3 linked regions of the Homo sapiens genome follow. The protein of the gene in region 1 interacts with the protein of each later gene in a pairwise test. Each region holds a gene or a part of one and is shown on either strand. Other genes may lie near its edges. The genes, in order: ERO1A, PELI2 and LHX4.

What was found.
Region 2: the proteins of ERO1A (region 1) and PELI2 interact in a two-hybrid assay, tested with the Homo sapiens proteins (one large-scale study listed by BioGRID and IntAct).
Region 3: the proteins of ERO1A (region 1) and LHX4 interact in binary tests that used the Homo sapiens proteins (3 or more experiments, as listed by UniProt).

What each region holds. Positions count from the first base shown.
Region 1 is NC_000014.9:52,639,342-52,643,634, forward strand, and holds the end of ERO1A (ERO1-like protein alpha isoform 2 precursor), read right to left. Parts: intron 4,290-4,293; coding exon 4,229-4,289; 3' UTR 574-4,228; downstream 1-573. UniProt on the Homo sapiens protein: Oxidoreductase involved in disulfide bond formation in the endoplasmic reticulum. Efficiently reoxidizes P4HB/PDI, the enzyme catalyzing protein disulfide formation, in order to allow P4HB to sustain additional rounds of disulfide formation.
Region 2 is NC_000014.9:56,292,773-56,296,421, reverse strand, and holds part of PELI2 (E3 ubiquitin-protein ligase pellino homolog 2), read right to left. Parts: exon of another isoform or gene 3,067-3,649; intron 1-3,066. UniProt on the Homo sapiens protein: E3 ubiquitin ligase catalyzing the covalent attachment of ubiquitin moieties onto substrate proteins. Involved in the TLR and IL-1 signaling pathways via interaction with the complex containing IRAK kinases and TRAF6.
Region 3 is NC_000001.11:180,264,662-180,268,310, forward strand, and holds part of LHX4 (LIM/homeobox protein Lhx4), read left to right. Parts: intron 1-1,541; exon of another isoform or gene 1,542-1,569; coding exon of another isoform or gene 1,570-1,592; intron 1,593-1,730; coding exon 1,731-1,933; intron 1,934-3,649. UniProt on the Homo sapiens protein: May play a critical role in the development of respiratory control mechanisms and in the normal growth and maturation of the lung. Binds preferentially to methylated DNA.

The sequences.
Region 1 (4,293 bases):
CAAGGAGAACTACAAACCACTGCTCAATGAAATAAAAGAGGATCCAAACAAATGGAAGAACATTCCATGCTCATGGGTAGGAAGAATCAATATCATGAAAATGGCCATACTGCCCAAGGTAATTTATAGATTCAATGCCATCCCCATCAAGCTACCAATGTCTTTCTTCACAGAATTGGAAAAAACTACTTTAAAGTTCATATGGAACCAAAAAAGAGCCCGCATCGCCAAGTCAATCCTAAGCCAAAAGAACAAAGCTGGAGGCATCACGCTACCTGACTTCAAACTATACTACAAGGCTACAGTAACCAAAACAGCATGGTACTGGTACCAACATTTTTATTTATTCAAACATTAAGCTAAGAAAAATTGTTGTATGAAATAATTTATAACACTTCTCCCCTTCCCTTCAGAATCTTAAACAGGAATCCATTTATCTACCTTATAATCCTAGGAAGGTATTATTTGATTATTCAAGAAATTCCTCAATGATGCTGCCTTTTCCCATGAAAGAAGTTCCTTTTTTTCCCCGAATAGACCCCTTTCATGACCCACCAAAAACCACACCAAATCTTGAATACAATTTCAGCTTTATTGACCCCCTAAAGTCTACAAATCCTTGGGACTCTACTGACCCTTGCTGTAAAGTGAAGGGAGTGAAAGTATTTGGAATATAGGTAGGACCTCTAATATAATAAAGATGTCACTTTAAAATCAATTTATTCAACAAACATTTATTAAACATTCATATGCCAAAAACTATGCTATGGAGATGCAAAAAATAAAAAGGTTCCTTTTCCTGCCCTTAAGGAGCTCACATTCTAGTAAAGACTTTTGAAAAATAAAACAATACAGTACGATTTAAGTGACATACAATAGAGGTAGGTTGTAATTACAGTGGTGACACGAAAGTGGAAGTTAGATGACTCTCCTTGAGTGGAGCAAAGGAGGTTTCACAGAGGAAATGCTTATGTCAGGCCTGCAAGATGCATAGGAATTTTCCAAGTGGGGAAGGATGACTAGCATACTTGATGCAAAGAGTACAGCATTTACCAAGGCGGGAGGCCTGGCCAAATGTGGCTTCTGAAGAAGTGTAAGTCTGTTTCACCAGAACATTCGGTGGAGGAAACACATCAGAAGACCTTGTACACCAAACAGAGGAGTTTGGCTTTCTCCTGAAAGTTCCTGAAGTCACTGAAGGATATTAGGGAGTAACACTGTCAGAGTGCTTCTAGAAAGCCTGCTGTGGTAACATTGAGCAACAGAGAGGAGACCAGCTAGGTATAGGAGGCAGGTTAGTACTGTAGGTATTTATTAATAATAGCAATGAAGATGAAAGAGTGATGTATCAGAGAGGTGGAGATAAAATCAGTAAAACTTAGACACTAAATGATAGGGGAAGGTGGAGGAGAGGAATGAGCCTAGAAAACTTAGAATATAATGGTTCTAAAATTAACCAAAGTAAGGGACACAGGCATTAGAGTAGGTTTTGCAGAGAATGAATGTTTTAAGACACACACAGGTGTCTCTGGGACAACCAAGAAAAGTGCAACAGGCAGATGGATTGAGGAGTCTGGCTAAAGATAAGGATTTAGGAACTGCTGAATTAAAATTACCCAAGCGTGAGAAGTGGTGTTGTGATTAAGAGAGAAAAAAAAAATGGAGGTCTGAGGAATAACATTTAAGGAATAAATGAAGAGGCCAAAAGGTGGGGGGTGGTTCAGGAGTGAGCAAAATGTAAGAAGTCAAGGGAATAAATCTTTAAAGTAGGGGTTGTCAAAAATGTCAAATACAGAAAAAAAGTCAAGTACTAGCTTGTGAATTAAACTGTGGATTTAGAATTAAGATTTTAGACTTTACAGGAAGGGACTGTTAACCAGAGAGCCAAATGGCAGATTTTAGTTAAGGAGCCAGTAGAAGGTGACAAAGTAGAGGTAAGAATATTCCTTCAAAAAGATTGGCAGCTAAAAAAAAAAGAGGCCGGGCGTGGTGGCTCACGCCTGTAATCCCAGCACTTTGGGAGGTCGAGGTGGGTGGATCACGAGGTCAGGAGATCAAGACCATCCTGGCTAACACGGTGAAACACTGCCTCTACTAAAAATACAAAAAAAAAAAAAAAAAAATTAGCCGGGCGTGGTGGCGGGCGCCTGTAGTCCCAGCTACTCAGGGGGCTGAGGCAGAAGAATGGCGTGAACCTGGAAGGCAGAGCTTGCAGTGAGCTAAGATCACGCCACTGCACTCCAACCTGGGCGACACAGCAAGACTCCGTCTCCAAAAAATAAAAATAAAAAAAGGAAGGGAAGCATAAGATGAGAGAGAGGGACACACAAAAAATGGCCATTTGAACCCACACTGTATTTATATTTTATATAGAGTGATCACTTCATAGTCTTTTGAGTCTCCAAGAGGATTGACTTAATTAATGGTTTAATGTCTTTCCTTTCCTGCCTTAGAGAAAAAGGAAGTGACAGAGAAAAATAGGACAAATTATTAAACTTACTTCTGTGATTATTCATTTAAAATATACTGAATACATATGCATACATTCATCCAACAAATATTTATTGGATACCAAGTATGTGCTTGGCACTGTACCAGGCCTTAGGGACACAGAAGAAGAAGTATACAGCAGTGTAAACTGACATTTCTTAACCACTATATAAATAAACCCCACTTTACTACTAATGTGACATTTCAACATGTTATACCTGATAAGACATATGTAAAGAGGGCACGATTTTGAGGTATATAGCTTCTTTTTCTCTACAATTACCATGTGATATAAATTCCTAAACCCCTTCAAATAGCTTTATAAATGAAGAGCTTCCACTAATGAAAACCTCCCAAAATTACAGTTCAGTTTTAGGGAGACAAAGGAAATGAACTTCGGGTATAAAAAACAAAAATGAAACTGGGTATGGTGGCAGACACCTGTATTCCCAGCTACTTGGGAGGCTGAGGTGGGAAGATCACTTCAGCCCAGTCGTTCAAGTTCCAGCTTGGGCAACACAGCAAAACCTTGTCTCTAAAAAAAATTTTAATAAAATAAATAGCCTACCCTATTACTATACACATCAAGCATAAAACGGGCAACAAAACTCAAAAAGAACTTTAGATTGGAACTTGAAAGTATTATTTATTCTAAGGCTTACAGTATTATAGTTCCAGAATTGTGGGAGTTTTTTTTTCTGAGAAAATCATTTTTAGTAATTATTCAGTATTACACACTGAAGTATTTAGGGTTTAAGGGGCATGATGCCTATAACTGACTTTCAAATGATTGAGGAAAAATTTGTGTGTGTGTGTGTGTGTACAGAGAAAGCATGAAAGATAAAGCACGTATGAACAATTAGTGAATCTGGGTAAGAGAGCTCTTTGTACTATTTTTGAAACTTTTCTGTAAATTGGAAATTATATAAAAATAAAAAGTGTTCCCCAAATTTTATTTAGTATTAGTGAAAGTATTATGAGAATAAATATATAATCTATTCAACTTTTCACAATGTTTAGAAATCTCCTGTGCCTTTGAGTTGTTATTGTACGTTTCTACACACAAAAACAACCCAATCAAAATAGCAATATACTTCTAAAAGTGATTTGTTTCATACCAATGTATTTTAGGATTGCCAGATAAAATACAAGACTCCCAGTTAAATTTGAATTTCAAACAAATAATTTTTTAGTATAAGTATTTTCCAAATATTCCATGTAAAATATTAAAAAACTAATTGTTTATCTGAAATTCAAATCTAACTGGGCAATCTTTATTTTTATTTGCTAAATCCAGCAACCCTAAATGTACTGAAAAATTCTACGTTGGTAATTATGGGTCATTTATGAGGCCTCCTTAGCATTTTCCTATTAAATGCTTGTCACATTTACCATAGTTTTATTTATATTACATATTATTACATAAAACGCTAGTTTGAGAGACTTAGAACATTCACTTTTATCATATATGAATTTGATAATCCTCCTTTTATTCAATATTAAACTTTAAAATTTGTACCACATTATTAAAGTATTACTTTTACTCACAGTAGTATTATACATAGACTTAACACAATTTTTAAAAATGTGTTTACTTAAAACAATATAATTCTCCTTTACAAAAGCAACTTTATATAAAATGTTTGGCTTAAGACTGTCATTGCTATTATGCCTTTGAATGAAATTCCACTCTTTCGCCTCCATTGTCCAGAAACAGGCACATATCAGCTTGTTTTCTTTAATGAATATTCTGTAACAAGTTCCTGAAGTTTTCTAATTCTTTCACACTTGTAGAAATTCTGT
Region 2 (3,649 bases), 3.7 Mb from region 1:
ATCACTGGATATGATACATATATGCCGTATGTACAAAGCCCTGAGCACAGTATGTATACCTAGCTTTACATGTTCAATTACTGTAGTGGTTATTTTAATGAACTTCACAAATCTCCTAAGATTTTCTTTTTAACTCCTTAAGTCAGTAACACAATGACTCACTGATCCCATAGGATGAGAGATGTCCTACCAGTCCATCCAGTGGAGACTCATCCTCATCTTGATGACAGCCAATCCAGAAGATCTTGCGGGGGGCCTGCAGTCATTACTGGAGGGTCCAAAGCACTCCTGGTGACCCTTAGCTTCCTCCACCTTGAATCTATCTTTCATCATTCATTTTTAAGGTTTGAAGCTAAACAGTTCAACATGAGCCTTCATTTTTAGAAGGAGGCCTGTGCTATGCACTAAGTGCTTATAAGACTGATTAACAGCTGACAAGCAGCAGCTAGGCGTGGTCAGCAAGAACGTGACCGCTGCCTCCACATGCCAGATGCATGCTAAGCCTTGGAGGTACCAAAGGCCAATAAAACCTCTTCCCCATCCTGCTGAGACTTGCTCTTCAGTAGTGGAAGGCAGACATGCCCAGAGCTCAGAGTGCATGAAGGCCAGTAAAGCACTGTTCAAGGCCACAAATTTATAGCAGCCAGGAGTGTGGACTCTGGGTTTGAACCCTGGCTCTCCCACTTATTAGCTGTATGACGCTGTGCAGATTACTTAAACTCCTCGTGCCTCAGTTTCCCCTTGTTTAAACTTTAGAAAAGGTGGTTGTGTTAGATAAGTAAATGCAAAGAGTTCTTAGAGAACACTGTCTGGTACGCAGTCAACACTCTGTAAATACCTGCTACTATTACTCTGATGATGACAGACGGTCAGAAATGGTTTCTAAAAGGTTTTTCTTTAACAGAGATTTGAGAAAGATGTCAGGCCTCAGTAGGGAGGATAGCAGGAAGGCACAGCAGGGAGAAGGAGGAGAGGCCAAATGGCATATGCACCAAGGGAGCAACAGGGAGTTTGATGAGGCTGTGCAGCCAGGCTGAACAAGGATGGACGCAGTTCAGGGCACTGGGTGGGGGGGGACGAGAGACCCAGGCGGGAGAGGGAGGCTGGCATCCATGCCCAGAGGGAGTTGGTAGGGGGTTTAGGTAACTATAAAAGAACTGATTGACCTTTCAAAAAGGTCACTTCTAGAACTTTGGAGGGTGGGTTGGAGGGGTAAAGATGAGCTGTGAAGGAGGCAACTGGTGCTCTCTCTGGGTAGAGAGGGTGAGTACACCTCAACAAAGACAGTCTCAGTGGCAAGAGACAGAGGCACAGGGACTAGAGAGAAAGAAATTAGACTCGATGGCACTCAGCTCTTGATCTGAGCAAGAGCCTCTTACGTGCCTGGTTGTCTGGGTAGAACAGTGCTTTCCACAGACAGAAACACAGGAGAAATGGCAGATGAGGGAGTAAATCCTGATTTCACCACTTAGTAGCTCTGTGGTCTTGAGTCAACGACTTAACCTCTCTGGGCCTGGCTTCCACATCCATTAAGCTGGAATAATGCCAATACATGTCTTATAGGATTGTTGTGAGAACTAAATAAGTTCAACAGCAAGAGCCAGGCCAGTTCAGTTTTGGGTGTGCTGAATGTGAGGGTGTGCAGAGTATCGGTGGTGGTAATGCATACAAGGCACGTGTGATGCAGCGTTGGAGACAGATCAGGCTCGAAGAAACATATCTGGGATGTTATCCGCACCTAGGTGAAGCTGTGGGAATGGATGCCACTGCCCAGGCAGGGTCCCAGGGAGGGCAGAGAGGACTGAGGACAGAGCCAGGAGCTGGGGTGGAGGAAAAGAACCATGTAAGGGAAAGAGAGAGGTATGGGAAGCACCAGAAATTTTGTCAATCTTTGGTTCAAAGGACTTTGGCGGCTTTCTGCTGCCCTTGGGGTACAGCCCAAGCTTCTTAACACACTTAAAAGGTCACTCCCAATGCAGTCACTCGACTTCTCCTGCTGTAGCTCTTCCCTTCCTAACTGGAAACCAGGACTGTCCTGCGATGAGCTGCAAGGAGCTGGAGTCCATGAGCGCACTACCTCGGACTGCCCACAGGCAGGTGCAAGAGCAACCTCTGCCTAGAATACTCCACTCCAGTACACCCTGCTCCAGCTGAGCCCTGGTTGGCAAACTCCTACTTGTCATCCAGGTCTCACCTGGATGTCACTTTGCCCTGGACATTTTCCTTGTCATGAAGAAATCAGCCCTTCCCAAGTATTAGTTTTTAGAAAAAGTTAAGGTCCCAACAAATGATAAATCTTAATACTGTACAGGACATACACTGTGACTCCTTTCAGACAGCCTGAAGTTTGCTGATGCTCCTTCCCCGCCCCACCACCATACCGAGCATCCCATGGTCTCCTCTCCTCTAACTGGTGACGTGAGGCTCCTGACCTTGCTGACCACAGGCAATTCTCAGAGGAGGCCTCATTGCAGGATAAAACTGTGTCTAAAGGATCACCCTGATGTGGTAAGAAGCTGAGGTATGGTGGTGGCCTAGCCTCTGGCTGTGGAACAACCCCCCTTTCCTCCTGCAGGGCAGTTCTTGGTAAACAACAAAGTCTTATTATAAATCTGGGGTGTATGGTTTTTTATTTTCCACATACCCTTGACTCCCACATCTGGGGTAGGTGTCCTGTGGAGGGAAAGTACCTTCGGTACCTTCTCATGACTGTGCTCATCACACAGTATCTGCTGATCTGCTGCCTAGTCTGTGACCTCCTCCAGACCATGCAATTAGAGGGCAGAGCGTGGACTTGGTGTTTTCTGCCACATCCCCAGTTTGCAACCCCTGCTTAGTAATAACAACCAGCCAGTCATGGGGCATTACTGTGTCCAGCACTGTTCCAATCCTTTCCAGCTACTGAATTTAGTTCTCACAACAGTCCTATTAGACATGTATTAATATTATTCCAGTTTGGGAGATGTGGAAGCCAGGCACAGAGAGGTTACGTCGTCAATTCAATACCACAGAACTAAGTGGTGAAACCAGGACTTGAACCTGGTGGCCTGATTTAGCAATCATTAGTAGGCATGAATTCAGATTTTATTTTTTAAATTCTACCACAAAAGAAAAGCTATGAGCAGGCACAGGAATTGACAGTATTGTGGAAGCAAGAGACATTTGGCCTCTACCATGGCAACTAATGGCCCCTACATAGCAACTATCTAAGCACAGGGTAGTGAATTCAACCCCCCATCCACCACTTCTTATTAGCAAGTGACTTAACCTTTTAAAGCCCAGGTTTCCTCATCTGTAGACGGACACAATAACAACACTGACTTCACGGGTTATTTTAAGCAACACTGGAAAGACAATTAATGTAATGCACCTGCTAGAGCCTGACCATAGCTACGCTATGGTTATTTTTATAATTTCACCTAAAATTAGGTATGCAATCAACTTAACTGAATTTACTTAATTTTATACAAAGCCAGTTTAGTTTAATAAAATACTTCATATATAATTTAATTAAATACTCAAGGCCCTCCTGGAGTAATATTATAAATGTTACCATATGTTATCATTAACTAGCTAAAAAAGGAGGGCACAATTCAAACTCCATTCACCTATTTATTCAGGGAGTTAAAGGCCTGAAAAGACATTTCCC
Region 3 (3,649 bases), on another chromosome or scaffold:
AGAATCTGATGAAAACCCAGGTCCCCTCCTGAGGCACAATTTTGAACAACTTAGCAGGTGGTTTACAGGCCTATGCTGACCCTCACGCAGAGAACTCCTGCTCTAAATGGGCCCCATCTCTCTGAAAACCAAGAGGCATTCCAGGAATTCAGAAGCCTGGGGTCCTCCCAAGCCACCACCTCTCAGCCCCTCACACCCCAACACCCTTCTTATACCCATCTCAGAAGAGTGTTCCCTGAAGTACACTCTGGGTCTTTCAGGATTACCCATGCAGACTTAGAGAACCCCCACTTTTCTCTGGGATGCTGTGTCCCTGGTGGGGGGCGTCTGAGGCTGCTGCTGGCCATGCCTATTCCGGGCCCCCATAACCCCCTCAGCAGGTATCATTACTGCATAACAGACCTATCATTCTGCATTAATCTGGTATTCATCATGATAGCCATGACCATAATTAATTTATTTGGTATTAATGTGGATGAAATATGTACTGTCCTTTCAGGGGAAATCAGGCTGCCTATAAGCATTAGTTAAAAGGACCATTAAAATCAAACCTTCCCCAGATCCATTAGGCGAAGTCTTTCATCCTGAAGAAGATAAAGTTCTGCTGTGTGAAATGTCATGAATAATTAGGTTGATTGCTGTTTTAAACTCTGCCCTTGCTTTCCCAATGCCTCCCGCCTCCCTCCTGAAGCGGGGAAGGCTCACCTGCAGCCACGCACCCTCCTTCACTGTCCCTGTCGGCCCCCAAATTTCCCTCGTCTCCTATGACCATCGGTGTGCCTCTGTTGATCTCTATGACCAGAATGGGGAAAGGGAGTGGAAACAACCCCACTGGACGATACTTTTAAGTGTCAATTTCTCCTTCCTTCCCGGCCTTGGCAGGGGGTGGCTTGCTTGGTAGAAGCTGCCTTGGTGGCAGCAGGTAGCTTCCTTTTGCCTCGGTGTTGTTCTGGAAAGGTGCTGACCAAGGAGAGGTCTGAAGCAGCATTTTCCAAACTGTAATCTGCAGACTCCTTGTCCCGAATGCTGTAGGGGCTGAAAAGTGCAGCTTCCTGGGCCCTTCCCAAACCACCATGCCCCAGGCTGTGTGCGTGCATAGGAAGGGGATGGAGGTAGGCTTGGAGGGCTTTGTGTGTGCAGAATGGAGGTGAGGGGAGAAATGGAGGCAAAGGAGAGAGAACAGCTGTCAGGACAGCCTTGCTCTGCTGACAAAGTGCATTTTCTCTGCAGCGTGCTGTCCCCTGGCCAGGCAGGGCCTCCTCCCTGGGAGTGTGTGAAAAGGTGTTGCTGGGTGCTTTCTACACACAGCCTGTGGCACACACAGTTCCCTGTGAGGATGTCCTCTGGGATCAACCATAAGGGTGAGGAAGCTGGGAGGTGGAGGGGGAGACAGCCTGCTTTGAGGGACTTAGAAAGTCCACCTGCTCCCCCTGTGAATTGATGGGTGTTAATCGGGCAGCTGGAATCCGGGGGCATCAGCTTTGGAAAAGGTACCTGAGGGAGACTCTAGTTCTCATCAGTCCCTTCTTTGGTGGTTGAAGAGTCCCAGGCACAAAGCAATGAAGCTAGATGGAGGCAGAGAGGACCAGACGGTAAGCTCTGGGTGACTGGGGGGTGAGGCTCATGGAGTCCCGGAGTGGTGGGGTAGGAGGGAGGCTGCTCCAGGAAGTTGGGGGAAGCCAGATCCCTTGCTCCCTGTGTGCCCTAATCCTTTCCTGCTGCCCTGACAGGCGCTTCGGCACAAAATGCACGGCCTGCCAGCAGGGTATCCCCCCAACCCAGGTGGTCCGCAAGGCCCAGGACTTTGTCTACCACCTGCACTGCTTTGCTTGCATCATCTGCAACCGGCAGCTGGCCACGGGGGACGAATTCTACCTCATGGAGGACGGGCGGCTGGTGTGCAAGGAAGACTACGAGACAGCCAAGCAGAACGGTAAGCAGCATGGCCCCGCATGGTCCCCTCTCCAGGCCTTTGTTTGGGCCACGCCCTCTGCCTGAGGTGCCCTTCTCATGGCGTCCCACCTGCCCATCCCTCAGAGCCCTACTCATGCACCGCCACCTCTGAGAAGCGTCCCAGATCTCCACACTGAGAGTAAATGCTGAACACCTCCCCGGCCGTTAGCACTCGCCGGCTTCATGGAAGTGTTCATCCAGCCATGGTTCCTGAGAGCCTGCCTGTCTCCATGGTAGGCTCAGAAGCAGCCAAGAACCTGGTTGTTACCATGGTGGTGGCCTCCTTCCCTGGGTGGAGGCTGGGGTGCTGAGGGGTGGCTGGGAGCTTGGTCTGTATTGGACACGTGGGGCTGCCGCTTAGTTTTGCACATCAGGGTGCACATGGACCTCTCAGCAGCCCCTGCCTCAAAGGCCGTCGGTGAGAGCCCAGCACTGGCCTCTGCACACTTCATACATCTGTCTGTTAATTGTGTTCTGTTCGCCTCGCAGACTGTGGGCTCCTCTAGGGCAGGGCCTCCTGGAGTTTCTGCAAGTGCCCAGTGAGTGCTAAAAGAAGAGGCAGGACACATGCCAGATTCAGGGAGGCTCCGTCTCAGCAATATAGCTCCCTCCACCCACTTCAATATAGCTGCCCCCACCCCCTTCACCACAACCACTGCAGGGCCACTGCCCACGGTGGCAGCAGGAGCTCTGCATGGTGGAGGCCGAAGTCAGGTCCCGCATTTAGCAGCCACGCCTGGAAAGGCCTAGCTTGGCCTGGCGGCAGCGGCTCTCGCCCTACATGCCATGCGCTTGGGCAGCCCGGGGACTTTCCAGCGTAGAGCCCAGAACAACACATTCCCCATGCTCCCCTCGCAAAGCCAAGGTGGACACTTTTATTCCTGCAGCCCTACCTCTGGCTTCTCACTCCCAGATGCACCCACATGGTCGTGGGGTCAGGCCCTGGCTCTGAATTTGGGATTTGGCCAAACCCAACATGATAACCTCAGAGGTGTGAACGCACAAAACATCAAGTTCCTTGGCCTTTGACTAGAATTTTGATCAACTCAGGGTGTTACTGTGCAAAAACGGCTCTTGTTGACAGCTCTGGGCTTGATGAGAAAAAAAATTAACAACAATTTTATGTATCTCCTTCTAGATCTTTTCTGGGCCCACACACATATTATACAGATCTCATCAATAATGGAGAAACTGGTTTTTTGTTCATTGAACACAGTATAAAATAAGGGGATTGTGGTGGTGAGGAAGCAGAGGGGATTCATAAGGGCCCTTTAGGTGAGCCAGCTGGAGCTGGGTTTGGCTTTGGTCCATGGCAGGAGTGGGCAGGGCTTCCTGTCTCTTTGAGGACCTTCCCTCCCACCACCCCCACAGCTCTGGCCTTTCAGGGTGGACAGAGGCCTTTGACCTCCTTCCTCCAGAGACCTGGGGCCTCTGCAAACCCATCCCAAGGCTCTTTGCCTGCAATGTACTAATCTGCTCTGGTTTCTTAAAACTCACTCCATGCTATTGCCTTGAAGTCAATTGTGATGTCATGGGAGATTAGGGCAACTTGTCAGGGATGAACCATCACAGCAGATGGACTCAGAGATACCAAGACACCTTTGGAAGTCTAGTGCCGTTCATCAGAGATACTAAGATGGCACGACCTCCCCGGCCTGCAGCTGGTTCTCATCAGAGGCCTCATTTGGACTCTGAG